2 separate regions of the Homo sapiens genome follow, and region 2 is linked to region 1. The links come from fine-mapping of genetic effects on gene expression. A gene starts in region 1. The other region holds a variant in brackets. All regions are shown on one strand. Distances are between the middles of the regions. Region 1 holds the start of RPTOR (regulatory associated protein of MTOR complex 1). Region 2 overlaps RPTOR (regulatory associated protein of MTOR complex 1).

Evidence for each region.
Region 2: its variant is fine-mapped to the expression of RPTOR in whole blood (INTERVAL, PIP 0.95).

Annotation. Positions count from the first base shown.
Region 1 is chr17:80,538,009-80,553,535 of GRCh38, forward strand. It overlaps RPTOR (regulatory associated protein of MTOR complex 1), which reads left to right and starts at 6,830. Exons shown (of 34, transcript NM_020761.3): 1 at 6,830-7,783. The coding sequence starts at 7,622. It also overlaps the pseudogene RPL32P31. RefSeq lists enhancers at 6,524-7,350, 6,684-7,043, 7,324-7,423, 7,351-8,177.
Region 2 is chr17:80,893,966-80,909,492 of GRCh38, forward strand. It overlaps RPTOR (regulatory associated protein of MTOR complex 1), which reads left to right. Exons shown (of 34, transcript NM_020761.3): 21 at 14,846-14,964. Among named protein-coding and RNA genes, the nearest start is that of CHMP6, 90 kb to the right of the region's middle. The variant C/T (reference allele first, on the strand shown) is at 3,646.

The DNA.
Region 1 (15,527 bases):
GGAGACCGTGGAAAGAGAGGGAGAGGGAGACCGTGGGGAGAGGGAGCGGGAGCGGGGGAGGGGGAGGGGGAGGGTTCTTTTTCTTTTTTATTATTTTTTGAGATAGGGTCTCTGTTGCTTAGGCTGGAGTGCAGTAGCGTAATCTCAGCTCATTGCAGCCTCCACCTCCTGTATATAAGCAATTCTCATGCCCCAGCCTCCCATGCAGCTGGGATTACAGGCATGCACCACCACACCCGGCTAATTTTTTTGTGTTTTTTACATAGAGACGGGGTTTCGTCATGTTGGCCAGGCTGGTCTCGAACTCCCCACCTCAGGTGATCCGCCTGCCTCGGCCTCACAAAGTGCTGGGATTACAGGCATGAGCCACTGCACCCGGCCCCTTTTTTCTTTTTAAATCTGCCATGGGTACAGACCACATCTTTGTGATTCTACCTTTAGGATCTGGGGGAGGAAGGAAGGGACTCCCAATAATGGGATGTTTGACCTCCAACGGACACTGTACCTTCATCCCTTCTCCACAAAGAATCCGTAGGGCCGTAGACAGCAGCGTCTGATGCCGTAAAGCCTTGCAGATGGCTCCCCAAGTCCATCCGGACTCATCGGTCAGGGCGCCCAGGCTGGAAGGCCACCCAGCGGGGACTGGGCCTGGGCACCTGCTCTCCCAGCTGCTTTGCCCTTGTCTTGCTCCACATGGCAGGCGTCTCAGAGAGGCTCTTCACTGCCCTTCGCAAAACAGCCCAGGGTGGGAAGGAGAGGCTGGGGTGCAGGTCCCAGCTCCGTGTTGGGCTCTCAGGCAGTCCCCTCCCTGATGCATCTCCTTCTCGGCTCTGTCTTTGCCGTGTTTTCCTTGGCTGGCTTTTTAAGGCTAGGGCTATGCAAAAATCCTCACTTCTGAAGGAAGAAATGTGGACAGTGGGTGAAGTTTATTCAGTAAGAGGCACTTTTCACCACAGTCCCTATGCTACCCAGGGACCCTTTTAAAAATGGGAATAACTTTGTTTCTGCTAATTGATCTACATGCTTATTATATAAAAAAATGAATAAAATAGAAAGGTGTGCTGTAGAAGGTGAAAATCACATGCATAAATACCACCATATTTTTAGACGGGTGGAGAGGGGGAGACAGCCTTGCTGGGCTCCTGGCAGCCTCACATTCCCAGCTGAAGGCAATGCTGTGGCCGTGTTACCTCCTTTTCCTTCCTCTTCTCACTTCACTGTCAACAAAGCATCTGACCTGCAGGGGGGAGTGGCTCGGGTTTTACTAAAAACGGAGTCATGATGCTCAGACAAAAGCGACGTTCTTCATGTCTATTTTGGTTTCCTTTAAGTTAAGCATAGATTTTTCTGGAAAGGACCGGAGCTGGCTGTTCTCCCTGCATGGAAAACAACAGCTCAGCGAAGCACCTGGTTTTCTCAAGTTCCCTGACCTCCAGCCTTGCTCCTGATTCTTGATGACAAAACACATTCAGTGCCCTTGATTGATTTAGCAGAGAAGTGGCAATGCTGCCGCATGGAACGCAGCCCATTCTGCCTGTGAATGGAATGCCTCGGCTGTGATGGTCTTCTGTTTTGGGAAAAGATTAGGTCAGTTGCAGTGGGTCAATGCTGAGCTCGGAGACTGAATATCCAGCCACCTTAGTTCTTCCTGGTAAAGGCTATTTATCTGAGCCATTTATGCAACCCCCACCCCCTGCATTTCTCCCTGCATTCATTTCTGCCTTCTGTCATATTTGCCCCCCACACTCAGGTTTTTATATTTGTTCTCTTGCTCACTTTGCTGTATCTTTAATTCCATTTGTCGAACAGTCTAAGTTTTAGGGTAAGAAGGAGTCACCTGGTCTACCTTTACATGGTAGGACAAGGTGCCCCACTCTGTTCAAGCAGGTTATTCTGCTTTTTTTTTTTTTTTTTTTTTTTTTTGAGACAGAGTTTTGCTCGATTGCCCAGGCTGGAGTGCAGTGGTGCAATCTCAGCTCACTGCAGCCTCAAACTCCTGGGCTCAAGCCATCCTCCCACCTCAGCCTCCCTAGTGGTTGGTACTACAGACGCATGTCACCATGACTGGCTAATTTAAACAATTTTTTTTGTTGTTGAGGCCAGGTGTGGTGGCTCATGACTGTAATCCCAGCACTTTGGGAGGCTGAGGCAGGTGGATCACCTGAGATCAAGAGTTCAAGACCAGCCTGGCAACATGGTAAAACTCTGTCTCTACTAAAAATACAAAAATTAGCTAGGCGTGGTGGTGGGCGCCTATAATCCCAGCTACTCTGGAGGCTGAGGCTGGAGAATCACTTGAACCTGGGAGGCAGAGTTTGCAGTGAGCTGAGATCACGCCACTGCACTCCAGTCTGGGCAACAGAGCAAGACACCATCTCAAAAAAAAAGAATTATTATTATTTTTTTTTTGTCGAGACAGGGTTTCCCGGTGTTGCCTAGGCTAGTCTCAAACTCTTGGGCTCAAACAAACCTCCCACCTCAGCTTCCCAAAGTGTGGGATTACAGGTGTGAGCTACTGCGCATGGTCTGTTCCACTCTTTTTGGATCCTAGCTGGGCCTGGAAGCCCCTTCAGCCCCACATCTGCAGGCTGACGTTCACCACCAGCAGGAGGCTTTCGTGGCATGTGGTCTTACAAACACCTCTGTGTTCAAGTCTTGAATAAGTGACTGTAAGAGACTCATGGAGCAGGTTGTTGCCAACACCCTCCCCCACTTTCTTTCTTAATTTCTGCATTTTTTAAAAATTAAGATGGGATCTTGGTCTACTGACTAGGCTGGAGTGCCGTGGTGCAATCATAGCTCACTGAAGCCTCAAATTCCTGGGCTCAAATTCCTGCTTCAACCTCACAAGTAGCTGGGACCACAGGTATAAATATTAAATTTTTTTTTTTGGTAGAGACAGGGTCTCACTATTTTGCCCAGGCTGGTCATGACCGTTTTCATAGCTTGAATCAAACCAGGTTTGTGTGTTTTCTGAGATTCCTAACATTTTGTTTTTAAGATTAAAGTATTTTAGCTGGACACGGTGGCTCATGCCTGTAATCCCAGCACTTTGGGAGGCCAAGGCGGGTGGATCGCCTGAGGTCAGGAGTTCAAGACCAGCCTGGCCAACATGGTGAAACCCCGTCTATACTAAAATTACAAAAATTAGCCAGGCGTGGTGGCGGGCACCTGTAATCCCAGCTACTCGGGAGGCTGAGGCAGGAAAATCGCCTGAACCCGGGAGGCGGAGGTTGCAGCGAGCCAAGATTGCGCCACTGCACTCCAGCCTGGGCGACAAGAGCAAGACTCTGTCTCAAAAAAAAAAAAAAAAAAAAAGGATCTTATTTAAAGTCTCTGTGGACAATAGATGTCCTTGCTTGTGAAGAACTGGAGACATTGGAAATTGGAACTGCAGCCCCGAGTGGCCAGCCCACCACATGCCACAGTCATGGAATCACCCAGGTGAGACAAGTCAGCCCTTGAATTTCCAGGCTGCCATTACTCACAGATGCTCACTGCCTTTCAAAAACCTAGAGCCACTTCCAAATGCTTGGCTGGGACTTGAAGAGAATCATCCGTGACATACTAGAACGAGGTTTCTTTTAAATGTCAAGATGCCATAAAATGATTCAGGCCCATCCTTGAACCTTCAGGGTGAGAGCTGAGCAGTCACAAGCCCCTTTCTGGTCTTTACATGAATCACAGAATTTCAAACTGGAAGGATCCTTAGAAATTCGCCTTCTCCAAGTTCCTGATGTCACAGACGTGGAGACCAAGGGTGGAGGAGGGCAGAGGCTTTGCTGAAATCTGCAGGAATTGGTGGCAGGTTGGGGACCATAGAATGTGTGTGTGTCTTCATCCTCAGTCCAGGACCCGAGTGGACCCCTGGCTCGGGGTCACATGTGTTAAACAGTAGAGGGTGTGTTTTGTTCTGCTGTTTTGAGGAGAAGGTGAGTCTCTTTCTGCTTTGTCAGATGGAAGTCTGGACAATTACTTCATAGCATTCATTCATTTGCCACACATATTGATTAAGGGCCCAATATGGGACCCGAACTGAATCACTGCAGGAGACTTTAGAGCGAATATTGTCTAAGACCTCCAAGTCTGCCTGGCTGTGAACTATCCTCAGAGCGACCTGATTTAAGAATTCAGATTCTGGCTCTCTTCCTTGGCGCTGCCTATGGAGGGGGCAGCCATCTCCTCCTTGGCATCATGGCCGCCCTCAGACCCCCTGTGAAGCCCAAGATCATCAAAAAGAGAACCAAGAAGTTCATCCGGCACCAGTCAGACCGATGTGTCACGATTAAGCGTAACTGGCAGAAACCCAGAGGTATTGACAACAGGGTTGGTAGAAGGTTCAAGGGCCAGATCTTGATGCCCAACATTGGTTATGGGAGCAACAAAAAAACAAAGCACACGCTGCCCACTGGCTTCTGGAAGTTCAGTCTACAACGTCAAGGAGCTGGAAGTGCTGCTGATGTACAACACTTCTTACTGCGCTGAGATCGCTCACAGTGTTTCCTCCAGGAACCGCGAAGCCACCACAGAAAGAGCCGCCCAGCTGGCCATCAGAGTCACTGACCCCCATGCCAGTCTGCGCAGTGAAGAAAACGAGCAGACAGCTCATGTGCATGTTTTGTGTTTAAATAAAACTGTAAAAACTGCAAAAAAAAAAAAATGCAGATTCTGAATCCCGGTCTCCCTGCTCCCCGATCTGGGGCTCTGGGTTGGAAGCTGGGCATCCTGAATTTTAGTTTCCTGGGCGATTCTGACCACCTGGTGGGTTTGGACTTCAACGTGCTCACTGACACCTTCGTTTAGAATTTCAGATACGAAAAATGGATTTCCCAAGGTCACACACGTTATAGGTGAGGAAACTGAGTCTCACACAGATTCAGTGGGCTTTCCCAGGTCACAGAGCTAGTTAGGGATGAATGGGTTTAGCGTTGCTGCTTTTCTGTAACTGTGACTTCCTGCAAGAGCTGCTGGAATGCAGCTGTCTACAGCCACCGGAGGTGGGGAGCAAGGTGACAAGGCAGAGGACAGGAGTGATTTTGTTGCCTTCAGATGAGAACGGGGTCTTCCTAAGACCCTGCATCCCTGAAGCCTCTGCTGGTAACTGTGAGGATAGTCTCTGCCAACAGAGAGGGTGCCCTGAGTTTCAATAGGAGAATTGGCTCCATGGGGTGTAATAACCAAACGAATGTGCGGAATGACAATGATTTAATCCTGTAGCCTTTATTAAAGGCTTGCTTTGTGCTGGGTGAGAAAGGTCTGGGATTGTATTCTTCATTCTCATTTTGAAAGGAACACAAATGCCATCAAGATTTTGATATGGATGGCCACATGTGTCTAAGCCCCGGAAAACCATCCTGAGAGATCAAGACCATCTTGGCCAGGATGGTCTTGAACTCCTGACCTCATGATCCACCCACCTCAGCCTCCCAAAGTGCTGGGATTACAGGCGTGCACCACCACGCCTGGCCTCGTTTTATTCTTATTTATTTATTTATTTATTTATTTATTTTTGAGATGGAATCTCACTCTGTCACCCAGGCTGGAATGCAGTGGTGTAATCTCGGCTCACTGCAACCTCTGCCTCCCAGGTTCCAGCTCTTCTCCTGCCTCAGCCTCCCGAGCAGCTGAGACTACAGACGCACGCCACCACGCCCAGCTAATTTTTGTATTTTTATTAGAGACGGCGTTTCACCATGTTGGCCAGGCTGGTCTCGAACTCCTGAACTCGTGATCCACCCTCCTCGGCTTCCCAAAGGGCTAGGATTATAGGCGTGAGCCACGGTGCCCTGCCTACATTTGGTTTTATAGTCCACCTTACACAGTTCTCTATACATTGTAAATGAGCCAAATTTCCTGAATTGAAAAAGAGAGTCACACAAGAGGCTTGCCTCCACGCACAGACATGTAGTTTTAGATGTCTGCACGTGAAGCTATATCAAAATAAGAATAAACTACTGCTACCAAGAAGTGGGAAAAAAATTTAAAAAGGATAAACTGCTCAGAAAACGAAACAGATTAAACAAAAAATTGTATTAGATGAAATTTTTTTTCATCGAATCTTGCTCCAGACTCTTCTTCTGTTGCTTCAGACCCTTCTTCATCTGAAGAGTCTTGCTCTGTCTCCCAGGCTGGAGTGCAGTGGCACGATCTTGGCCCACTGCAACCTCCGCCTCCCGGGTTCAAGCAATTCTCCTGCCTCAGCCTCCTGAGTAGCTGGGATTACAGGCGCGCACCACCACGCCCAGCTAATTTGTGTATTTTTAGTAGGGACGGGGTTTCACCATGTTGGCCAGGCTGGTCTCGATCTCTTGACCTCGTGATCTGCCCGCTTCGGCCTCCCAAAGTGCTGGGATTACAGGCGTGAGCCACGGCGCCCGGCCTTTCACTTGGTTCTCTATGAAAAAATTAAAGAGAAAATCTGATTGACACTGTGGAGGACACTACACTCCAAAAAAAAAAGTACTATATTTTCTAATATTATCAGTGCTTTTTAATATTTTCTAATATTATCAGTGAAGCTTTTGCCGCTTTTTCAAAATCTGGAAGAAACAAGGCGGTTGATTCCTTTAATTTCAGGAGCATGTAACTTCATTTATAATGACAATGTTTTTGAAAAAATAAATTAAACCGACAGTTTCATTTGTAGGATTGACTTTAATAACACGCCTCTACTGAACAAATGGCGATTAACTGGGGAAAACGGAATTATGGTAACCGAGGTAACGGGGTCGGGGACTCTTTCTCCTTCGCTGCATGCTGGGTGGCGGGGAGAGACCGCTCTGAGGAGGTTTGGTCTGTCGGCCACGCCGTAGGCCGCGGTGCATTCTGGGTCCTGGCAATATGGCGTCCTCCTTGATGGGCTGATGAGATGAGTTTCACTGTAGCTCCAAACCAGAGGGCAAAGCTCCCATGACCCAATAAGCCCACATTGTCCCTTTCCTCCGTGGTTCCGTGTCGCCCGTTTCTCAGGACTCGTTCTCAGGCAGGAGAGAGCCTCGGGGCTGAAGGCCAGGACCAGCCAGGCCGCGCGGACCTGAGGTTGAGGAACCGGGTGCAGGCGAGCACGATGGGCCGGTCGTGGCTCTGGTTGCAGCAGCTCAGACGAGTGCGGGACCCGCAGGGCTGAGAGTGGCTGGAGGAGACCCAGGGCCCTTTGAACCCGATCCCTTGGCCGGAGACCTCAGCCCAGTCGGCCCAGTGGGCGAACCGGCACCAAGAGCGGCCTGCCTGTCTTCGGAACTGCTGAGGCGGTGGAGGCCGAGAGCAGGGTCATCGTGAGGCCTGAAGTCTCTTACGCTTTTGGCAGCTCCCCTCGCAGCCCCTCTGGAAACGTACAGCCTCAGGAGCAGCCAGTGGCTTGGGACCTGGGGTGGTGTGTGTCTGCGGAGCTTCTTGGGCTGCCCCATTTCCTAGCGGCCCCCACCTCCCCACTTCCCGCTCAGAGTTAGAGATAAGGATCTCAGACTTTTGCCTGAGTAAGGGTCTCCGCACTCTTTATCCATTTGGTTTTCGATTTCCCGTTTTTGTTTCTTATTTCACCAATTCTGGTACACGCTAGTTTTTAAGGCTGGAGGTTCTCGAGCGCTTGCTGCCAAGGACTCCCCCACCCCCTCCCCCACTGATGGAGTCCGAAATGCTGCAATCGCCTCTTCTGGGCCTGGGGGAGGAAGATGAGGCTGATCTTACAGACTGGAACCTACCTTTGGCTTTTATGAAAAAGAGGCACTGTGAGAAAATTGAAGGCTCCAAATCCTTAGCTCAGAGCTGGAGGATGAAGGATCGGGTAAGTGGATTCTGAAGGCACCCCTTGAACTTGGTAGTTTCCCCAACAAAGAAAGTTTACAGCCCGAAAAGTGTCCTTGGGAAAGCGCCGACATTTCCCCCTAGCCACACGTTGTAAGTCAACTAGAAAGCAAAAGCCATTTCAGACTGCAGTTTTTGGTTGAAAATGGAAAATGCTGTTTTGGTTAGTCATTATTCACTGGGTAGTGTTAATTCAATTCCAACTAAGTTCTAATTCAGATAATAAAAGTTAAGCAAATTTGAAAATAGAGCATTGCGAGTATTTACATGCTCTTTGGCATACTACTTAGTTCTGTAAACACTTAGAGGAAGGACAACGTGCGATATAATCTTTATACCCACATGATTAGTCTACTTTTTAAAATATCCAAGCTGGGTGAAGTGCAGAAGTCTGATATACTATGCTAGGAAATGAGATTACTGGAAAATGTTCAACTAGTAACAAATTAGTGCAAAGTTATTATAAAGTTACACTGAACTTCATTCTAGTCTTCTAAACAATTTCTCTTGAAGCTAGATTTTCCTCCTTTTATGTAGTGTCCTGTTGCTGTAACTTGGAAACAGGATTTCTTTAATCGTGAGTTAGGGTATGAGGCGTCGAGACTTGGGTGCAGGTTTTAGGGTGTCCGCATGGTGTTTGGAGTGTGGAGAGTGACTCACAAGCAGCTGGTAGGAAAGAAAACAGCCGAATTTTGTTGGATTTGTCCTTCATAAAACACCCATCTATTTCCTGGCCTCAAAAGCAAAAGGGTAGTACTGCTTCTCCTCTATGCACACTTATAATTTGTCTTTTTGTAAGTTATTTTCTCCCTCCAGGCTGCTTTTATTTGCACATTTCAGTGGTATAAAAGAGGAAGTTGGTGTTACAATGTTTGATTTTCTCTAGGCTTATGTATATGTTTATGGAATATTATTGTTTTTTAGTATATGATGTTGAACATATATAAGATTACACTTCTGGGCTGGGCGCGGTGGCTCACGCCTGTAATCTCAGCACTTTGGGAGGCCAAGGCAGGCCTCCCAAAGGCAGGCGGATCACCTGAGGTCAGGAGTTTGAGACCAGCCCGGCCAACATGGTGAAACCCTGTCTGTACTAAAAATACAAAAATTAGCTGGGCTTGGTGGCAGGTGCCCGTAATCCCAGCTACTCGAGAAGCTGAGGCTGGAGAATCGCTTGAACCTGGGAGGCAGAGGTTGCAGTGAGCCGAAATCGCACCATTGCACTCCAGCCTAGGGGACAGAGTGAGACTGTGTCTCAAAAATAAATAAATAAATAAAACTTCTGGTAACTCTAGTCAGTCAGTCAGTAGTAACCAGTTAGCTACTGACTTGGCTTACTTCTAAAAGGTTAGGAAAATTTGTTTCATCCAAAAGCATTTTAAGGAGTTAAATAAGTTAGTCATTGGGGGAGGTTGTATAAATTCTATCTTATGGACATCTTTAGTAGTAACTATATAGTTAAAAGCTTTTGTGGTTGCTATACATATATGAAAAGACTTTTTAAAAAATTCTTTGTGGAGGGCAGTTTTTTTGTTGTTGTTATTTTGAAATGTGGTTCTCTCTGCTGTCCTAAACCTATGTTCCAACAGTTTGAAACTGATTAATGGGTATACGTTTGACCTTTTAATTAAAACATTAATTTGTGAATGATCAACATTCCCTAATAAGCTTTTCACAGGTTGTTAAGAGAAACAAAAGTTCTGTGACTCTTAGTGACTACTGAGATTGCTGCTTAGAAAGGAGCTGGGGAGAAAGTTTGCTGTATCTGTTTTTCGGTGGAGAAAATCAGCAGCTAACATCTTCAGTTGAGTGTGTGGGAGTTTGGAATCTTGTCATCTCTTCCCTCTTCCAAAGGTCAGGTCCTTTGGAATCTTGTCATCTCTTCCCTCAAGGACCGTATCACACATGCTATAGGACAGAAGTTGCAAACTCAAATGATATTGAGTGGGGATGGTAGCATAAGAGAATGAAACAGGCCACATTTAAGAAGAATAATGGCATAGGTTCAAAGATAAAGACAAATGGCAGCTGACATTTGGCACAGTGTGTGTGACAGTTTCTGGAGGGTGGGAACAGGGGCTCCCTGATGCCATAACTGAAGGGGCAACTGGGCTATGGCCAGGCCTCTCTCTTTGTCTTTGAGAAGTCAGCAAACTTTTTTTTTCTTTTATTGTAAATATTCATACTAATTCAGATTTATTACCAAACACACTGTAGTCCAACACTGCAGGCTGAACAACCCCATTTGTGGAGTGTTTTTCTGTTTCTTTTTTTTTTTTTTTTTTTTTGAGACAGGGTCTTGCTCTGTCATCCAGGCTGGAGTACAGTGGTGAGATCACACGGCTCACTGCAGCCTCGACCTCCTGGGCCTGAGTGATCCTCTCACCTCAGCCTCCCCAGTAGCTGAGACTATAAGTGTGCGCCAGTGTGTCTGGGGTTGGGGAGTCTCACTGTGTTGCCCAGGCTGGTCTTGAACTCCTGGGATCAAGCAATCCTCCTGCCTTGTCCTCCAAAAATGCTAGGATTACAGGCATCAGCCAACACGCTCAGCCTGGGGTGGTTTTTTTTTTTTTTTTTTTTTTTTTTTGAGATGGAGTTTCATTCTTGTTGCCCAGGCTGGAGTGCAGTGGTGTGGTCTTGACTCACTGCAACCTCCGCCTCCCAGGATCAAGCTATTCTCCTGCCTCAGCCTCCCAAGTAGCTGGGATTACAGGCGCCTGGCTAGTTTTTTTTGTATTTTTAGTGGAGATGGGGTTTCACCATGTTGGCCAGGCTGGTCCTGAACTCCTGACCTCGGGTCGTTCACCTGCCTCAGCCTCCCAAAGTGCTGGGATTACAGGTGTGAGCCACAGCACCTGGCCCTGGGGTGTTTTTTGACCAGTGGGTTACCTACGTAAGAATCTCTGTTACCCAGGCCTCCAGGCCACACAGTCCCACTGTGCTGGACGTAGCCTCCAGTCTGGTGGAGCAGCATGTTTGTAAAGTGAAATGTGTGGGCGTGGTTGTTCTGTGCTAGGAGCTACATCAACTACTTCCTGGTGGCCACTGACTGTCCTAAATGCAAGCTGAGATTTTGCTTCTTCTTGTGGTTAATGTGCAATTCCATACGCTTTTATTTTGTACATATATTCATTAGTTCTTACTGGCTCCTATTTAGTAGCCTTGCTACAGATTCCTCAAATTGACATCTTTACCAAAGTTGACTGACTGATGACTCCCAAGAAGTTTTTTTTGCCACCCAACACTTGGCATCCTTCCAGAGCTACAGCCCTTGCCCGCTCTCAGTTGGGATTCCTGCCATCTTTGTTTTGAATCAGTCTTGGTTTTCAAATGCCACTTTTACCACATTTTAATTTCTAAGTTACTGTTACTTTAAAATTATTATCAAGTTAGTTTGTTGTTTGGTTAATTCTACTATGTATAGTGAATGAGGCATATATGTATCCATAGTGTTTTTAGCTTGCAATTTTCAAATAACTAGACATATATGAATTGTAGTTCAAAATGAATCATTCACAGACCTTTGGCTAAAACAGATACGTATATATCTCCCCTATTTGTGTTTTTGGCTCACTGCAACCTCCGCCTCTTGGGTTCAAGCGATTCTCCTGCCGCAGCCTCCCGAGTAGCTGGGATTACAGGTGCCCACCACCATGCCTGGCCAATTTTTTTCATATTTTTATTAGAGACGGGGTTTCACTATGTTGGCCAGGCTGGTCTCAAACTCCTGACCTCAGGTGATCCACCTGCCTCGGCCTCCCAAAGTGCTGGGATTACAGGTGTGAGCCACCGTGCCTGGTCTAACTGTGATACTTTATAGTTATCACAGAGTTCATTTTCCTACTGGAAAGTGGACAGTGGGGATAACTGGTCTCAGATGACTCTTTTGCCTGGAATATGTGGGATGGAATGACGGGTGCTTGAGAGCTATTGCTCTGAAAGTGTTGACAGACATGCTATGTCTACACACATGTAGACTGACAGACACTCTGTCTACATGCATGTAGCACCCCTGGCAGACACATTCTGTGTACACATGTGTGGTGTCATTGTCAGACACTATTTCCATGCATGTGTAGGACCACTGACAGGCATCCTATGTCTACATGTGTAGGGGATGAAACGGTTAGATGAAGAAGGCTATTTTGTAAACCATTCTCTAGACTCAGTTGCATTGCTCTGTAGCCATACTTTGCCCAGGTCATGGAGGAAGCAGAGTAGATCTGTTCAACTAATACATGGACTGCCAAAGGTTTATGCGGTCTTTTCAGCAAGGGTAATAGCAATCCTTCATAATCTACACTACCCCCTCTGCTTTCCTCACCTTGCGTCCTCTCCACATTCCAACTGTGCCCTGTTCCACTCCCCTGAGACTGGTCTCCATATGGCCCCAGTTTGTTGCTAAATCTAAAGTTCTCTTCTCTGTCCTTCTCTGTTCTTATTTCACCTCTCAGCAGCATTCCACAATGTGGACCATGGCCTCTTCATAAAGCTCTTTCCTCACTTGCTTCTGTGTCTCCACGAAACTCGGATTTTCCTCTTAGGTCACTAGTTGTTCCTTCTCAGACTCCTTTGCTACCTGACACCTAAATGCAGGGGCACCCCAGGAATTGATCTTGGACCCCATTCTCTGTTCTGGGTGTGCCCCTCCCTAGCAGATCTCATCGGGGCCCATGATTTTAAATAGTGTCTACATGCCAGTGATGCTTAAACCCCCAATCTTTAGTTCTGATCTGGCCTGAAATTTCTGTCTCAGATGCCTACTGCCTGCTTTTTCTTAGTTTTCTCCATCACCGCTTGCCACAACCACCATCCACTCAGTTGTTCAAGCTGTAAGTTTAGAGTTTATCCTTAATTCTTTCCTCTCCCTCTCTTTATCGCCCCATCCAATTCATTAGAACCCATCAGCGTTACTTCCAAAGCATGTCTTACATTGGCCTGCTTCATTTTGTCTCCACTGATGCAGCCCCAGTCCAGGCAGCCACCGTCTCTTGTCTGGACACTGCATTTGTGTCCTGACTGGTCTCCCTATGTCCATTCTTGCCCTACAACCAGTTTTTCACATAGCAGTCAGAGGGATCTTTTATTTATTTTGAAATGGAGTCTCTCCTTGTTTCTCAGGCTGGAGTGCAATGGCGTGATCTCGGCTCACTGCAACCTCCACCTCCCGAGTTCAAGAGATTCTCGTGCCTCAGTCTCCCGAGTAGCTGGGACTACCAGTGCATGACACCATGCCCGGCTGATTTTTTGTATTTTTAGTAGAGATGCGGTTTCACCATGTTGGCCAGGCTGGTCTTGAACTCCTGAGCTCAAGTGATCCTCCCACCTCAGCCTCCCAGAGTGCTGGATTACAGGCGTGAGCCATCACACCTGGCCAGAGGGATTTTTTGAAAGTGTGAAGGGGTGGGTTGCCCCTCCACACCTGTGGGTGTTTCTTGTTAGGTGGGACGAGAGACTTGGAAAAGAAAAAGAAACAGAGACAAAGTATAGAGAGAGAAATAAGGGGACCCAGGGAACCAGCGTTCAGCATATGGAGGATCCCGCCAGCCTCAGAGTTCCCTTAGTATTTATTGATCATTCGTGGGTGTTTCTCCGAGAGGGGGATGTGTCAGGGTCACAAGACAATAGTGGGGAGAGGGTCAGCAGACAAACACGTGAACAAGGGTCTTTGCATCATAGACAAGGTAAAGGATTAAGTGCTGTGCTTTTAGATATGCATACACATAAATATCTCAATGCTTTACAAAGCAGTATTGCTGCCCGCATGTCCCACCTCCAGCCCTAAGGCAGTTTTTCCCTATCTCAGTAGATGGAACGTACAATCGGGTTTTATACCGAGACATTCCATTGCCCAGGGACGGGCAGGAGACAGATGCCTTCCTCTTGTCTCAACTGCAAGAGGCATGCCTTCCTCTTCTACTAATCCTCCTCAGCACAGACCCTTTACGGGTGTCGGGCTGGGGGACGGTCAGGTCTTTCCCTTCCCACGAGGCCATATTTCAGACTATCACATGGGGAGAAACCTTGGACAATACCTGGCTTTCCTAGGCAGAGGTCCCTGTGGCCTTCCGCAGTGTTTGTGTCCCTGGGTACTTGAGATTAGGGAGTGATGATGACTCTTAAGGAGCATGCTGCCTTCAAGCATCTGTTTAACAAAGCACATCTTGCACCGCCCTTAATCCATTTAACCCTGAGTTTGACACAGCACATGTTTCAGAGAGCACGGGGTTGGGGGTAAGGTCATAGATTAACAGAATCTCAAGGCAGAAGAATTTGTCTTAGTACAGAATAAAATGGAGTCTCCTATGTCTACTTCTTTCTATACAGACACAGTAACAATCTGATCTCTCTTGCTTTTCCCCACAAAAGTGTGAATCAGATTCTGTTACTTCCTTACTGGTGGTCTCCATTGGCTTCCTCTGTGCTTAAAGTAGAACTCAGACTCCTCTTGCTGGTTCACAAAGCCTTCATGATTTGGCCTCTGCCTGCCTTTTCTGCTTCTTGGATAGAAACTCCTGGAATGCTTTTCTCTCTGATCTTTGCACACCTGGCCCCTTCTCGTCGTTCATACTTAGCATCTAGGTCCCTTCCTCAGAGAGGCCCACCATCACCCCATCTGAAGCAGCCACCCTGTCACTCATAAACCCTCCTGATGGCTATTTATTTCTCTGATATTTTTCTCCCTACTTCCTCCTGGAGATGTGAGCTTTTCATCATAAAGCAAGGACCTAGTCTAGTCTATGCTAGTCCATAGGGCAGTGCTTGGCACATAGTAGGGATTCAACAAAACTATACTGATACAAAATGGATAGTTTACAAAAGGCTTCCACATACATTATCTTTAAGGCTCAACAGCACCATAAATTACCTAGGGATCATTCTCTCCGTGTTACTGATGAGGTAACTGACGTTTTAGTTGAATGGCTTACCTAAAGTTACATAAGTAACATGGCTAGCAGTGAGAGGAAGTGGAACCTGTGCAGAGGGAGAAACAAAGTTTAGTTCAAAACAAAACAAAACAAAACTGTATCATAATGTCTCCACTGAAACATTTATGTTAAGAGGTCAGGGGGTTGAAAATAGCAGACCAGCAGACCAACATTCAGCAGACAGAGAAGGATGCTCAGTCTGCTCACAGCATGTGCCCTGTGCACTGGGGCTTCTCCTAGACCCTTGCAGGGATCCACAAGGTCAAAACTGTTTTCATAATAATGGAACACCATTGGCCTTTTCCACTCTGTTGATACCTGCACTGACAGTGCAAAAGTGATGAATCAAGACAGCGGTGCCAAGCTGTACTACTAGTTCCTGATTTCTTTGCCATGCACATGGAGAGAATGTCCTTGCTAATAAAGCAGTGAAAATGATGACTTTTACTAAATCTTGACTGTTAAGCACACATCTTTTTCAGACTGTGTGTGCTGCTCCTTCTCCTGCAGGCAAAGCCCAGTGGCTGCCTGGAGGAGGAGCATCTGCTGCCTTCATGGACGCAGCACGTCCCAAAGGAATCACCGACAGGCCGCCTCTGGATGTTGAGGCCTGTGTCCACGGCAGACGTGTTTTTGAAAATGAACTTAGTGAGCTGTCACTTCAAGGAATACAGCTGACAGTATTTGCTGCCAGTCATGAAATTTGAACCTTCAAGTGAAAATTGGTTTTGGAAAACTTGTATCTGCCGCTGTGAGCCTGGCAGCTTCCCAAGACTTAAAGATGTTTCTGGTGAG
Region 2 (15,527 bases), 360 kb after region 1:
AAACTGTCTGTTCAAAAGAAAGAATAAAGGTCAACAGGACTGCGAGGCAGGGAGAACGTTTTGCTGGGGCAAGCGGGAAAGTTGACATCACTGTTGTGTTGGGGTAGTATTTTACAGGCTGCTCCGGAGCCATCGGAGCTGGCCAGTTTGGCTGGGTGGGAAGGCTGCCAGAACCTTCCATCTTTGTTCCATAGACGGGTGAGAGTTCTTCATGGTGCTGGACACCCTGGTGATGCAGAACGGTGGTTCTCAGCCGGGGGTGGTTTTGCCCCCCACGAGCAACTGGGGTACAGTAGGGGTGCTCCTTGTCCCAGTGGGTGAGGCCAGGAAGCTGCTCACATCCCCTGGTGCCCAGGACAGCCCCCACACAGTGTCCGCAGTGAGAGGCGGAGGGCCCTGCGGTCGGGCTGGGGGCTGTCATCCCCGCCCTGCTCACCTGCGGAATCTCCACACAACTTTCCCTCCATCCCAGCAGCTTGACGCAGCACTGCCTGGAAATGGAAATCTGACGGAAGGGTCAGATTCTTCTCTTGTTCTGCCATGAATGGTGTGTGCCTGGGTCCTACCACCAGGATTGCTGTTGTAAAACAGGAGAAGCAGGAATTCACCGTGTTTTCTTATTGTGTAGCTATGTTCATCTTCACACTGCTGGTAACAGATTTAGGGCTTAACCAAATGAGCCTCATCTCCTCTTGTTCTGACTATCCAGAGTGGCTTACCGGCTTCATTTGAATTTTTTTCATGTTAAGGAGCATTTTAGCCATGTAAAAATTTACAGAGACTTATATAAGAGCGCTGCGTGTGTGTGTGTGTGTGTTGTGTTCCCAGCTTAAGGAATTACAGAGGTCGAGCCCCAGACCCTACCCCGGTCCCATTCCCTCTGGTGACATTACACTTTCCCTCCCTGGCCATGAGCCCTGGCACACACGTGGTGCCCACTTAGAGGCCTTTACCTCCTATTGGCGCCGTCGCACGATGCGTGGCCCGCAAAGCCCGTTTCTTTGGCTCTGACTTCAATATGTATCTTTGATGGTCATCTAGGTTTTGTTCCTTCACCTCCGCGATCTGCCGTGACTCCATTATCCATTCTCCTGTCTGGGGACAGTGAGGCCGGTTCTAGTTTCTTCTTGCCTTTTGTTCCTTTTCTTAATAAGCAAACTCAGAATTCAGCCCCTGCCACCATGGAGCCCCACATCCAACACACCCTCACTCGCTGCACCCAGCTCTGCTGGGCCCCAGCCTACCCGGCCCCCAGCCTGGGCATCGGTGGGGAAGCTCTTCTCCGGCATATGGTGGCCGCTCCCCTCTCATTCAGAGCCCCCATCTGGCAGCACCTTCCCAGAAGCCTCCCCAGCCCCACGCCCCACCTGGAATCAGGCTTCCCCAGCTGCCCTCTGACCCTGCTCCCTTTTCCTGCTTTATTTTTCTCCTGAGGACTGTGGACTGCAGACGTGCTGTACGTGTAACTTGTTCATTGGCCCGGCCCATCTCTCTCCCCTGGAGCTTGAGAGCCGCACGTGCAGGAACCCAGCCTTGTTAACCACTGTCTCCTCCCACCCTGTCCACACCCAGTGCCTGGTACGCAGTAGGTGCTCAATACACATAAACGGGCACGTGTGTGGTGCGTGTTCTTCAGCGTGGATACACGTGAGTGCCTCTCGCCACCTTGCCTCAGAGTGAAGCTGCTGCGTGAACGGTGCCTGCACCTTCAGCTTTTGTAGATGTCGCCCCAGGCCTTCCACGGGATCCTCTGTTCTAAAGCGCAGGCGCCCCCATCTCGCCACTCTCTACCACGCCGGTCTTGGCCAGCCTTTGTCTGTCTGATAGACACACCTGGTGTCTCCTTGTGGCATGAATTTGCATCTGCCTTGATTGCAGTGAGGTTACAGCCTTGCAGCCTTACAGACTCGCCTTGTGTCGTTTATCTTTCTCTGAGTAGTTTGTAATCAGCATTCATCACAGTTCTGGGTGCTGATTCCTGGCTGAATATATCCATCGAAAATGCATCTAATCTATGACTTTTTATGATGCCTTTGGTGCCACACAAGCTTAATCTTTTAGTTTCTCTTTTTCTTTATAACTTGGGCCTTTTGTGTCTTGTTTTTCCTATTCTCAATGTCCTAAACATATTCTCCTACATTTTCTTCCAAGATTTAAAATTTTCCTTTTTTGTGTTCATGTCTTAAGTATATCCTGAACCACATTTTGTCTCTGTGGTGAGGTGGGGATCCAGGTTGTATTTTTTCTTTATGCCACCCCAGACCCTTCATCAGACAGCCCGTCCTCCCGCCAGTGCTTCTCAGCGTCTCCCTGGCCATCAGTCCTTAGGGTCTGAGTGGGGGCTCCATTCTTAGCAGCACCCATCCCATCCACGGCCGCGCCGACACCCCACACAGCCGCCCCGACACCCCACGCGGCCTCGCTGACACCCCACGGCCGCAGCAACACCCCACACGGCCTCGCCAACACCCCACGGCCATGCCGACACCCCACACGGCCGCACCGACACATCCCACGGCCGCACCGACACACCCCACGGCCGCACCGACACCCCGCATAGCCACCCCGGCACCCCACGGCCGCGCCGACACCCCACACAGCCGCGCCGACACCCCACACGGCCGCGCCGTCACACCACAGCTGCGGGGGCAGCACCTTTGAGCCCGCTCCTCAGTTCGTTTCTCAGAACTGTCTTGGCCGCTCTTAGCCCTTTGCTCTGCTGTATACATTTCACAGTCAGGCTTTCTGTGTCGACAGCAGCCTCACTGGGGTGTTGTTTGAATGGCGCTGAATTGGTGGATTTCCCTGGGATGACTGACTTCCTTGCATCATGAGTCTTCCTGCTCCTGAACAGGGTGTATCTTTCCATTTACTTAAGTCTTCTTTATGTCTTCAAGACAGTCTAACTTTCTGCATAAAGGTCACAGGCATGACGTTACCTTTCAGTTTTTGTAATTTTAAGTAATATCTTTTTTAAAACCTGTTGCTGGCAAAAAAAGAAAGAATGCCAGTGGGCTGGGCACGGTCCCTCACGCCTGTAATCCCAGCACTTTGGGAGGCGGAGGCCGAGACGGGCGGATCACGAGGTCAGGAGATCAAGACCATCCCGGCCAACATGGTGAAACCCTGTCTCTACTATAAAAAAATTAGCCAGGTGTGGTGGTGCGCACCTGTAGTCCCAGCTACTGGAGGAGAATCACTTGAACCGGGGAGGCGGAGGTTGCAGTGAGCGGAGATCACACCACTGCACTCCAGCCTGGCAACAGAGCAAGACTCCATCTCAAAAAAAAAAAAAAGAATGGCAGTGGACATCTGTGTTTCTCTCTTGAGAGTAAACGAAACCTTTCTAACCTTTTACCTTTGATACGACATTTGCTGTAGATTTTTTGAGTGGGTGCTCTATATCAGTTTATAGAAATTCCCTTCCCTTTGGTTCACTCTTTTTATGAGTGCAAATTCCCATTCTATTCTAGTTAGTTAAGAATTTTCCTGATAAATGGAATTAATTTCTTTGAATGTATTTTCTGCATCTCAGAATGACCCTGTGCATGGCTGTTTGTTAGGGTAGGGAATTACATGATTGAATTTCTTGTGAAATATCCTTGCATTTCTGGGGGCACCCAGCGTGGTAATGTCCCCTGACAT[C/T]GCTGCCTTACGCTCACCAGCTATTTCTTTGGGCGCTCCCCATTGGCATTCACGAGTGGGTTGGGCTGTGACTTTTCTTGTCCTGACCTGGCTGGTTTAGACATTGAGTCTGTACCTGCCTAGTAAAACTGGCTCCTCCGGGCATGGTGACAGGTGCCTGTAATCCCAGCTACTTGGGAGGCTGAGGCAGGAGAGTTGCTTGAATTCGGGCAGCAGAGGTTGCAGTGAGCCAAGATCACGCCACTGCACTCCAGCCTGGGTAATAGAGTGAGACTCCATCTCAAAACAAAAACAAAACAAAACAAAACAAAACTGGCTCAGGAGTGTACCCTCATTCCCTGTCCAAAAAAACTGGCTCAGGAGTGCGCCGTCATTCCCTGTCCTCGGGGGCAATTTTTATAAGACAAAGATGATGTGTTCTTTCGGTGTCTGAGTAGAATTTGCCCCTGAACTGTCTGGGCTAGTGTAGTGTTGTGAGGGTGGGTTTGAATTCTGTATTCCATTTCTTTAATGCTGATAGGATTATTTACATTCTCTATTTCTTCATAAGCTAGCTTCAAAAAGTTTTATTCTTCTAGGATTTTATTCATTTCAGCTAAGTATTCTCATTCTTTCCCTTGAGGCTGTCTGCAGTATTCTCATGAGTCTCTAATCTCTGCTGTCTCTTTATTGTTTTAGCTGCTTTTACTGATATTCCCAATCTGCTGCCTCTTTAGATATGTCCCCGTTTATTCCTATTGTTGTTTATTTGCCTTTTCCCCTTTTTCCTGATTAATCCTCTAAGATGTTTGTTCATTTCTTTAGTGTCTTCAAGTTCTAACTTTTAGGCTTTGTGGATTTACTGCATTATTTTATCTTTATTTTTCTATTCCAGTACTTTATTTTGTTTCCTTTCTACTGTTTTCTCTAGGTTCACTCTCTTGTCCTGTTACAGTTCTCAAACAGAAAATAAAAACAGCTCATTAACTTTGAGTTTTTCTTCCTTCCTAATGTGTGTGTTCAGGTCTGCGGGACCCCTGCCCCGGCTCCCCCAACCCCTGCCCCCGCTCCCCCCCCGCTCCCCCCACCCCCCGCCGCCCCGACTCCCCCCGCCCCGGCTCCCCCCGCACCTGCTCACCCAACCCCTGCTCACCCCGCCCCTGCTCACCCCGCCGTCTCCGTCTAGTGAGTTTTGATGATGGGCTTTTCACTTGTGTTCAGCTTCAAGCTTTCTTTCTACTTCCATTGTGGTTCCTGGGGATGGCGGTCCAGCCACAATGACAGCAGCGCATGACAGGAGCCCAAAGACCCGAAACAGACGCAGGGCATCCGCCAAGGCAGTTCCCACCGGGCAACCCTGTGGGTGTGCTCCCAGCCTTGGCCAGCTGCTGCCTTGAGCACCTCTGGATAGAACGAGTCCAGAGCTTGCACCATGCCCTCCAGGGTATGGAGAACTGAAAGGTTCACTACACAACAACCCAGACACGCCAGCTTAGCCCAGACACGCCAACTTGTTAATTTTCATTGAGAAATAACGTTGCAGCTTTGTGCATTTGGCTGTCCACTAAAATATGCCAAGTGCCCAGAAAGCGCAGAGTTGACTCCGTATATTCGAGTATAAATCAAGGTATTGCCAAGTCACCAATGAAATATATTCTAACGTCACTTGTAAGATGTTTGTTTTGAACTGGAATACACTTTTTAAATAGAATTAATGTTACATATAGTGGTTAGGTTTCCAGGCTAGCCTGCAAGAGTCTTTTAAAACCTGTCTGCAGAAATTCTACTTATAAATCTACAATGAAAAAAGGTATTTAAAAATTTTTTTTTAAGTACTAGAAAATGTAAATTCATAGTATTCTGTTTTGATTACACATTTCCCCTGGCCCCGGCCACAGCTCCTGTGAATAGCTCTCTAGCGCCTCCAGCAGGTTAGTGCCACCTCTGCCCCAGTTCACGCTCATCAAGGTCAAGGTGATAGCTCCCTTCCGTCACGTGTAGGTTAGAGCAGGAGTCTGCAAACTCTTCCTGTGAAAGAGCTTTGCAGGTGGGACTGCCCCTTGGCACTTCCCCAACACTGCCAGTGTGGTGCAAAAGTAGCCAGAGACCGCGTGTAGGTGAATGAACTTGGCCATGTTGCTATGTAACCGTGTGGACTGAAGTTTGAATTTTGCGTAACTTCACATCACAAAATATTGTTCCTTTGATTTTTTTTTCAACCACTTAAAAAGTATAAGAACCATACACAGGCCATAGAAAAACAAGGCTGAGTTCAGCTCAGAGAGCCTGACAGTAGGGCACACCCTGCCCGCACCCTGGCCTCCAAGGATACTCCTGTGAGTCAGAGGGCTTGGGATTCTCCCACGGATTGGACAGATATTTTGACAGTGCCCCCACTGTGCATGCTGGGGCACAAAAGTACAGAACAGGCAAACCCAATGCCACCTGTGTCGAAGCCAGTACCATCGGCTCTGGGCATCTCCCACCCCTCCCTGCAGAAGTGGGCGTCCTCCCTCTGCAGCCAAGGGGACCGGCGTTTACTCAGGTTGACTCCTGGCCAGGAGTCGGGGACTCCTCTTTGTGCCCCAACACATCCTTCTCTCAGCCGGGCATCTGTGGCCGTCTCCTCCCCGCCTCGCAGCCACCTGAGCCAGCAGCTCTGGCCTGGTGGTCGCAGCTCTCTCCCGGGTCTCCCTGCTTCCACTGTGGCCCTCCTGGGGCCGTGTGCTCACTGTGGCCTTCCTTTTTTTTCTGAGATGGAGTTTTCCTCTTGTCACTCCAGCTAGGGTTTAATGGCGCGATCTCTGCTCACTGCCTCCCGGGTTCAAGCAATTCTCCTGCCTCAGCCTCCCAAGTAGCTGGGATTACAGGCGCATGCCACCACACCTGGCTAATTTTGTACTTTTAGTAGAGACAAAGTTTCTCCAAGTTGGTCAGGCTGGTCTCGAACTTCCAACCTCGGGTGATCTGCGCGCCTCAGCCTCCCAAAGTGCTGGGATTACAGGCATGAGCCACTGTGCTCGACTGGCCTTCTTCTTTCACAGGAAGCGACAGCAGCATCACCCCTCGGTGCTCACCTGGTGACCGTCTGCCAAGGGCCTGGTGGCCCCGCCACCCTACCTGGCCCATGCTCCATGGGGTTCTCGGTTCACTCTCGTCCCTCCACTCACACGTATCTGGCCATCAAGTAAGAATCAAAATAAAAAGTTGCACCTGGCCTGCAAGTGTGCAGAACCGCACCTTTTGTTGATCCAGGAAGCTCAAGCCAGGCAGTGTGGCGCTGGGTCACCATGGCACCATTGAGAGCTTCCGTCTGCAGGTCCCCACGCCCACAGCACCTCCCTTTCCCCCTGGGCATTTGGATACCACATGGGCATCTCCCCTTCTGCTGGCGAAGGCTACAGAAAGTTCACAGCTGTGGAGTTTCCAGGTGGCTGAACTTGCTGAGGCTGCTGTTTGCTGTGCGCGTGCCATGCCTGAGGCCCTGGGTGCTGTCCACAGGCAAGAGGGACTGCGGAGGCCCCGCCCAACTCCTGTGTGAAACTTAGCTCTTGTCTGTGATGAGTGAATGCCGTTGTTATCCTCGGTACTGGTCTCGGTGGAGTACAGGGCGAAGAATCGCAGTTTCATTTGAGGGCCACCCAGACGGGAAGCACACAGCAGCCTGGGGCCCGGACACAGGGGCTTGGCCTCCATGAGTTTTCTCCTCTGCCGGTTCTTTCTTTTCTGTCTTCTCGAAGGAGCTGGACTCCCCATTCCACCATCCTTCTTATACAATGTGATTCCTGACTTTTTTTTTTTTACTGGAGAAAACTGAGTTTTATTCGTATATCATTCAAATCTTAGGAAATTTGACAGGAAAGAGTTTCACAATGAGCTGGAGTTTAGGAAGGAAAGAAAACAAAGTCGCCCCTGCAAAGCCAGCCTCATTCATATTCAGTGAGGTGTCACTCACACCACCTGGAAACCACCGTGCTTACCTAAGTGTTTAGAAGTCATAACTTACACAGAATCCCATTGTGCACAGCACTTCCCTGTTTCCAGCCAATTTCTTCTTTCATTTCAGCCAAAGAACAGCAATCTCTTTAGTCCTTTCAGTGAAGATTGCAGAGGCTTTCAGAACCATGGCAACCTGGAGAGTCCATGTCTCCCCATCTTTCCTGGTGCCCCAGAAGCCCTGCCCCAGCGCCTCCCCATCTTTCCTGGCCCCCCAGAAGCCCCGCCCCCAGCGCCCTCCCTGCTCTGCCTTCCCCAGAGCACTTGCATTCTTACACCCTCAGTCACGTGTTTCCTTTCTTCCCCGTGGCAATGAAGCCCCTTGGCTGGTACTTGGCTTCCTTTGATCGCTGATGGAGCCCAGGTTCCCCCAGCAGTGCCTGGCCCTGGTGGGGCAGGATAAATGTTTGTGAAACTAAATGGGAACCCAGGTCTCAGCACTGTGTCAGGTTCTAGAATCTTCTTTGATGTCTCCATCCTGCTTGTTTCTCACTCAGCCCTTCGTCTGGCCTGACATCCACAAGAATCCCCTACCTCAATCCCTCCTATTTCCAGTGCCCCCATCCCACCAGGCCTCGTTGCCCTGGGTCTTGCTCTCTGCAGACCACAACTGGGCAGGCCCTCTTTCACACCAGCTCCTCACCACCCTCCAGGTGAAGCCTTCGTTAAAACCGCATTTTCTGTAGAGGCCAAACCATTGTCTGACATTCAAGGCCTTCCTTCAGCCTCCTGCCCCCCGTCTCAGCAGCAGCCGCTCCACTGCACCTGCCCGCAGCACCCCTGGCTGGCCCCTGGCCCGGCCCCTCTGCCATCCGTGCAGCTCAGAGCCAGGTGGTCTTGCCGGGAGGTTGCCTGGCCCACCGCCAGGATCCCCATGTAGGTGCCTGACCCAGTACATCAAAGCATGATGTCGCCATTTTTACCACCACAGTCCTATAAAGTTGTTTCTTGCTAACGCATGGATGTGTGGACACAGGCCTCACCTGTCCCGGCCCCCAGCCCATGCGTCTGCCCTCTGCACTTATCTGTGTTCCTGACGGCCACAAGTGGCCGTGGAGCTGCTCAGGATGGAAGGATGGCTGGAGACGGTCTGTGGCCTGTGTCCACATGTCCCGGGACCCAGCCTGAGGTGCCCTCCTCACCCCCAGACACCCATGCATGTGGCCCCACACCATGTCACTCCCACGCTCATCCGTCCAGCCCCAGCTCCCAGCTAGAGTGCAGTCCCATGGGGGACCACGCTGCTGTGTGCTCCACCCGCCTTCCCTCCCGAAACCCTGCGTCTCGGCCAGAGTCCAAGCACACCCGTGCTGAGAGGCGAGGCGGGAGTTAATTCTGCTCGGGACTCTGGTGGCCTGAGAAGGCTCTTCCCGCAGAAACAGCCTCATCCCGAGAGCGCTGGCAGGAACGCAGATCAGAGGCCTGGGCTAGATGGGACCAGTTTTCACGACTCTGCTAGATACGGTGACATTTTTTACGGTTTTGAAAATGAGTTACCATAGAAATGGATCCAGGATGGACTAATGCAAGGGAGGGGAGGGCGAGAAAGGAACACAGCCCTGCGGAGCCTGGAGCCGGCCCTGGTGCAGCTGTGGCAAGCGCCCTGCTCACCCAGAGGAGGAGCTGGGGGCCCTGGCCAGCGGCAGAGCCAGAAGCCCCGCAGGCCGCCTGTGCTCTCCACACCTGAACACGGGATTCTGCGGGAGAGCTGGTGTCAAGTCCTGACCCCTCTACTTCGTTCCGAATCTGGGAGCCAGAACTACTGCCTTTGGAGGAAAGAGGAGCCCGGAGACCCGAGCCCAGAAACTGGGGCACTGCCCGGCTCCTGGGAGGCCACAGAACAGTGGCGGCCCCTGCACCCCAGGCCTGCCCAGGCCTCTCAGCCGCACACATTGCGGCCGGCTGCACTGCGGCATCATTGGTGTTCACAGGACGGGCCATAGCAACTGCTTCTCCCTTGGTTTATTTTTTAATGTTTCTTAAAGACGGGGTTTCGCTGTGTTGCCCAGGCTGGCCTCGAACTCTTGGGCTCAAGCAATCCTCCCACCTCACCTTCTTGGGTACCTAGAACTACAGTTTCCTTCCTTTTTTCCAAGGCATCGAGAAGCTGAAAGAGTCCTTACAAGCCCCGCGTGCAGCTCCAGAGACCCCCAGTAGTGAGTTCCGGCCAGGCCTCGAGGTCTGGGTTTCAGGGCAGAGAAGGTATTGGTTTCTGCCTTTGCAGAAAAAAAGCCTGGTGCTCGCTCAACCAAAAGAAAAGCTAGGCAGGGTTTTTGCCAAAGGAACTGTGTAGGTTTGGAAGGAAAAGGCTTCACAACCCAGAAACTGGAGTTACTCTTGTCAGAAGACGGTGGTGAGAAAATGAACAACAGTTTTCCAATGCTACAGGATTATGTTTTTAGGACAAAAGTCCTTAACTAAAGGCCATTATGATGTTTGTCTCGTAGGGGTACTGAATATGCTGAGAAAACGATGCAGACGCACCGCCCACCCGGCCCGGGAGGTGCTGCGTCTTCCCTGTGGGCAGCTGCAGGGCCCACGGCTCCGGCCGGCCCAGGAGGAGGGAGGGCGGAGCGGCTGGTCAGCGTGATTCTCGTAACAGCCACACCGAGTTGTGGGTGCAGCCCCTGAGGGGTCAGGAGGGGTCACAGGAAAGGGGCCGCTGCGGAAGCCCTCGGCCTGGGGCACTGGTTCCCCAGGATGGCAGAGGGTCTTGGCCATCACAGACTGGGTGAGCACATCAGAGGGCGTAACCCGCTCTGCCAACCCCTCAGCCTTGGGGTGGCGGCTGGCAGCTGTCACCTGCAGGAAGACTCTGTCTTCTCTGAACTGCTCCGACAGCCGGGGAGCTTCTGGGATTCAGAGTCAGCCAGAGCTCTGAGTAAATTTCCCCGCCGTGTATGCTATTTGGAAAGCTGTGGCCATTGGGCTCTGAACAATAACTTCTAAAACCATTCATTATGATCTTTTATTACTTTTAGTCTAGACATGAAAATAGGTTCTCCGTGCTTACAGGGAGTTCTGTGAGTGCCAGCAGGGGCCCTTTCTAAGCTCAACATCCCCGGTCCCTGACTCCCTGCCGGGCAGGACCCAGGCAGCCCCACCTCCTTCCTGGTGGACTCGAATCCGATGGGAAGTTCTCTGCGGTCTGTTTTGGGGACTGGCAGATTTTACAACAGGACAGTTCATACAACGGAGCCTGAGAGAAGATTGTGGCCAAACCAGGGAAAGACGTGAAATAAAGACAGCAGTTCCGTGATCACAGCGTCATACTTTTTACTAGTACATAGTTATAAAATCCACTGTCACTAAAAAGACTGGCAAAAATTAGATTTTTTTTTCCCCTGTTGAGTCGCAAACAGTATTTCGACTTTGATATAAGTGGAAGTCTGCACGAAGGTCGACAACAATAGCGTTGGCCCTCGGTACGCGTGGGGGACTCAAGGGCCCAGGGCCCACGACGCTCAGTCCTGCTAGGAAAGGCGTGACAGCTGTGCATCCCCCACACACATCCCCCATCGTGCTTGCATCTTCTCTAGTTTCCTTATAATGCCAAACCCAGCACAGTGTGTCAACAGTGGTTATGCTCTCTTGTTTTTTTTTTTATGTGTATTACTTTTTGTTTTGTTTTCAAATATTTTCGATCTGCGGTTGGTTGAATCCATGGATGTAGAGGGCCAACTGTAATAAAAATCTGTTTTTAAAAATTAGATGAAAGTGGCCAGGCGCAGTGGCGCATGCCGGTAATCCCAGCACTTTGGGAGGCCAAGGCAGGTGGATCACGAGGTCAGGAGATCAAGACCATCCTGCCTAACACGGTGAAACCCGTCTCTACTAAAAATACAAAAAAAAAAAAAAAAATTAGCTGGGCGTGGTGGTGGGCACCTGTAGTCCCAGCTCCTCAGGAGGCTAAGGCAGGAGAATGGCATGAACCCAGGAGGCAGAGCTTGCAGTGAGCCGGGATCGCGCTGCTGCACTCCAGCCTGGGCGACAGAGCGAGACTCTGTCTCAAAAAAAAAAAAAAAAAGTTAGATGAAAGTAGCAGCTAATACATCTCACACACACCCCCACCCCGCCCTGCACATTGCCAGGGTCCTTACCTGGAGTGTCCTGTGGAGCCCTGACCTAGACCCCGGGTGTCCGCGTCTGTGGCCCCCACATTGTGGGTGAGGCTTGAGCAGCCACCAGCCTGCACCCTCCTCGCAGTCTGCCAGGGCCGCCGGGAGTGGGGGGCCTCCTGCCGTGCCTGCCCTGGGTTCCGGGCTTGCCCAGTGCCCTATTCTTCACAGTGGCCTGGTCCTCACCCCCGGGTCTTGTGAGGAGGGTTCTCATATAAGGCCAGCTGCCCCTCACAGCCCCTTCACGGGGCAGTCGAGCCTCGTGGGGAGCTGCTTCAATGCCTCACTCAGCTGTGGGGAGCCCAGGACCCCAGAATAATCAAGGGGAGTGGGTCTCAGGTGGGCAGTCATCAACGGGCATCTTACGGGGCCATCCTGTCACCCATGTTAGAGAGTGTCGTGGAGCTAGGCGGTAGCGAACTTCGCCAGTGAGGCCGCATCTCCTCCTCACCAGGGCCTGTCGCGGGAGGGAATTCAAAGCCAAATCTCCTAGCCCACCCACCCACTCTAAAAAAAAAAAATGAGGACGCAGCCATCGCCGATGTCCTTGTGTTGCACGGAGCAGTTCCTAGGAGCCGGCTCCGCTGGGGTAGAGGAGACTCTAGGGATGTTCCTACAGTCTGGACCGATTTTACATTTCCGAGACTTGCTTGTGGATCTACACGGCTATCGCAGAGCTGTGCAATCTGAGAGCTGGAAGGCTTCGGTTCTGTCCCAGTACACGCGGTGCAGGACCACGGTTGAGCAGAAGGTGCATCTGCGTGGCACCGTGGCGCTGAAGTCCAGGTGTGCTTGGGCCCTAGGCTCCCAAGACGTTCCCACTGCCTCCTCCTGGGCACAAGGCTCAAGCACAGGGACCGCCGGCCAGGCACACATGTGTATGGGCAAGACCCGCAGGGGACGTGTCCCTGGGAAGAATGCTTCCTTTGGTTGAAGGCTGTAAACTCGCCCTGTGAGGTGAGACATGTCAGCTCCCAGAAAAGGTCCCAGCCTCTCATGATTCACGCCAGCACAGGCAGCACAGCAGCAGAGCGTGACCTCCTAGATGGCAGCGTGACCTCCTAGATGGCAGCGTGACCTCCTAGATGGCAGCTGAGCTCAATTCCACACGGCTCAGTCCTGGAGACAATCACTCACTGCAACACGCATTCCTCATGGGGGCCTCTTCAGGAGCCACGGGCATGGGGCTTCCCTGACCTCTGCACTCACGGTGGGGGCGCGCACAGCAGGGGTAGACACTGGCCCGCCATATCTGGAGCTGAAGTAGAGCCCGTCTTGGGCTCGCTTAGCGGAGACCATAGGTGGAGGTGAGCCAGTGGCCTCAGGCATCTGCAGAACCCACGCACACATTGACTTTCGCACCCGCCTCCATCTCCGTGGACTTGACTGTGTCGTGCAAAACCCACTCCACGTGCGCAGCTGTGTTCCTGCAGTGACACGAGGCCCTCCACTGGCTTTCGATGCTTCAGCTCTTTCACCAACAATCAGGTGGACTGGAATCACACCTCACTCGAAACCCTTTGAATCTCTATTTAGTGAACAAGCACTTGCTTCTCAGCAAATTGTCTAGCTTCCCCAAAAATAAAGAAGATGGAGTTCTGTGTGGCTGGATCCCTTTTCAGCTCCCAGCACTGAGGGCAGGGCCCTGTCTGCCTCCGCCTCTGGGTTGAAGCCTGGCAGTAAACTGGCACTCCTGGTGCCCGCAGGCAGGGGAGGCAGCGCCTGGCCCCGCTCTGCCCTCCACGCTCAGCGCCTCTGGTCCTCGGCCCAGCCCTTGCTGGACATGCAGCCTCTACCAGGATTGCTGCTTCCCTTCTCGGCCTCTCTGGGTCCAGCGTGGCGTGGACAACAGTTCGGCAATGCCTGCTCCATCAGCCTCCTCCCTGGCCTCAGCCAATGCTGACTGTGCCAGGAGCCCACATAGCCCGTGCCTGCCCCCCCTTCTGGTTTCCAAGTGCTCACAGCCTCCACCCCACAATCTCTGATTGGCTCCTGCAGGCTTCCGTCAGGTATCCCCCAAGGCTCCGCGTCCCCATCACCTCCGTGTTTTATTGTTCAATGTCTTAGATCTTGTTTGTGCTACCCCCTCTCGCTCCACCCCTCCTTTGCCCAGAGAATGATCCTCCTTCCCTTCAAAGCCCAGCTCCTTCGTGCCTCTTCCACCAGGCCTTCCTGGCCTTCACTTCCTAGCCCACTGCTGACAGAAGGAGTCACTCTCGCTCCTTCCTGCATCTCCCTGAGGCCGCACGCTGTCGTGGACGTAGCATGGCTCAAAGGTTTGATGGGTGTGCGTTCACATCCTTCATCCTCTGGGCCTCACCTTCCTTGGCGACGCTGGGGGTAACACCTGCCTGTAGGATTGCTGGGGAATTAAATAGGACCGAGCAGCCGCACCGACGAATCCTCACCGACGAAGCCTCAGCGCTTCCCTCCATGCCCACGACTCACCAGTGTTATTTATAAATGAGTCTGAGTCCCTGCTGGGTCCTGCCTTGTCTGTCTTTGTATCCGAGTATGCAGCACAGAACCTTGCATTGAGTGTTGGGTGAGTCGGGAGAGGCTTAGGGACAAAAGTCACAGCACATCAACCTTTCGTGAAGTCCTAGCATCTCAGAGCAGGGCCAGTGCCTGGAGGTGGACAGGAAGCACGTGGAGGTGGGCAGGAAGCACTCCCTGGGTCACAGTGCACAGCAGCACGTGCTGAACTTGGTGCAGTGCAGACGTCCATGCCACATGCACCACTACCCATGGGCTGCGGCAGCTCCTAGAAATCTAGGATGTGACATCAGACGCTCCTCCGGGAGTGTGGTCATGCCCTCCGATCCGCTGAGGCATTTCAAGGAAAGTTACACCCTTTCCAACGCAGTTTTCCTTTTAGAAAGATTTGGCCTCAGTAGATGAATCCATGTGATCAAGCCTAGTGATCAGCTAGGATTCTTGAATCTCGGGACCCGTTGCCAGAATAACAAAATGGGGGCTTCCTGTAACCTCGGCTCTTTAAAGCAACACTTCTGATACCAGGGTTAGGGTTTCAGAAAATGCAGCCGCCTTAGGAGCCTCATTGGCAGCTACTTTCCACTAAAACATCTTCCATTTCTCTCTCTCAGGAGTTTCCTTTAACAGTGTTTACACTCAGATTTGGAGAGTCCTGCTGCACCTGGCTGCTGACCCCTATCCAGAGGTCTCGGACGTGGCCATGAAAGTACTCAACAGCATCGCCTACAAGGTACGTGCCGGGCGCTCCCCACCGCGCTCCAGCTGCTGGTTCTCGGTTACGAGTATGCATGCCAGGAACTCCAGGTGTGCCCGGGTCCACACCACAGTTTAGAAAGTAACAAAACGAGCTTCAGCAAATATCTTAAATCTGGAGATGTACACAGTACACCCCAAACTGTGTCTGTGCAGCTCCCACGTGGGCAGAGGGTGCTGGATTTACTGATGCCTGTCAAGGCAATTAGGGGAGGACTGACATTATCTTTCAGGATCCTCTGGTGTCTGGGTGAGCTACAGTGCTGGCCCTTCTTCCATTTTTTTTTTCTTTCTTTACTTAATTATTTATAAGAGATGGGGTCTCCCTGTGTTGCCCAGGCTGGTCTTGAACTCCTGGGCTCAAGGGATCCTCCTGCCTCAGCCTCCCAAAGTGCTGGGATTACAAGCGTGAGCCACTGCACCTGTTTTTTGTTTTTGTAAGACAGTCTCACTCTGTCCAGACTAGAATGCAGTGACCTGATCACGGCTCACTGTAGCCTCCAACTCCTGGGCTCAAGCAATCCTCCCACCTCAGCCTTG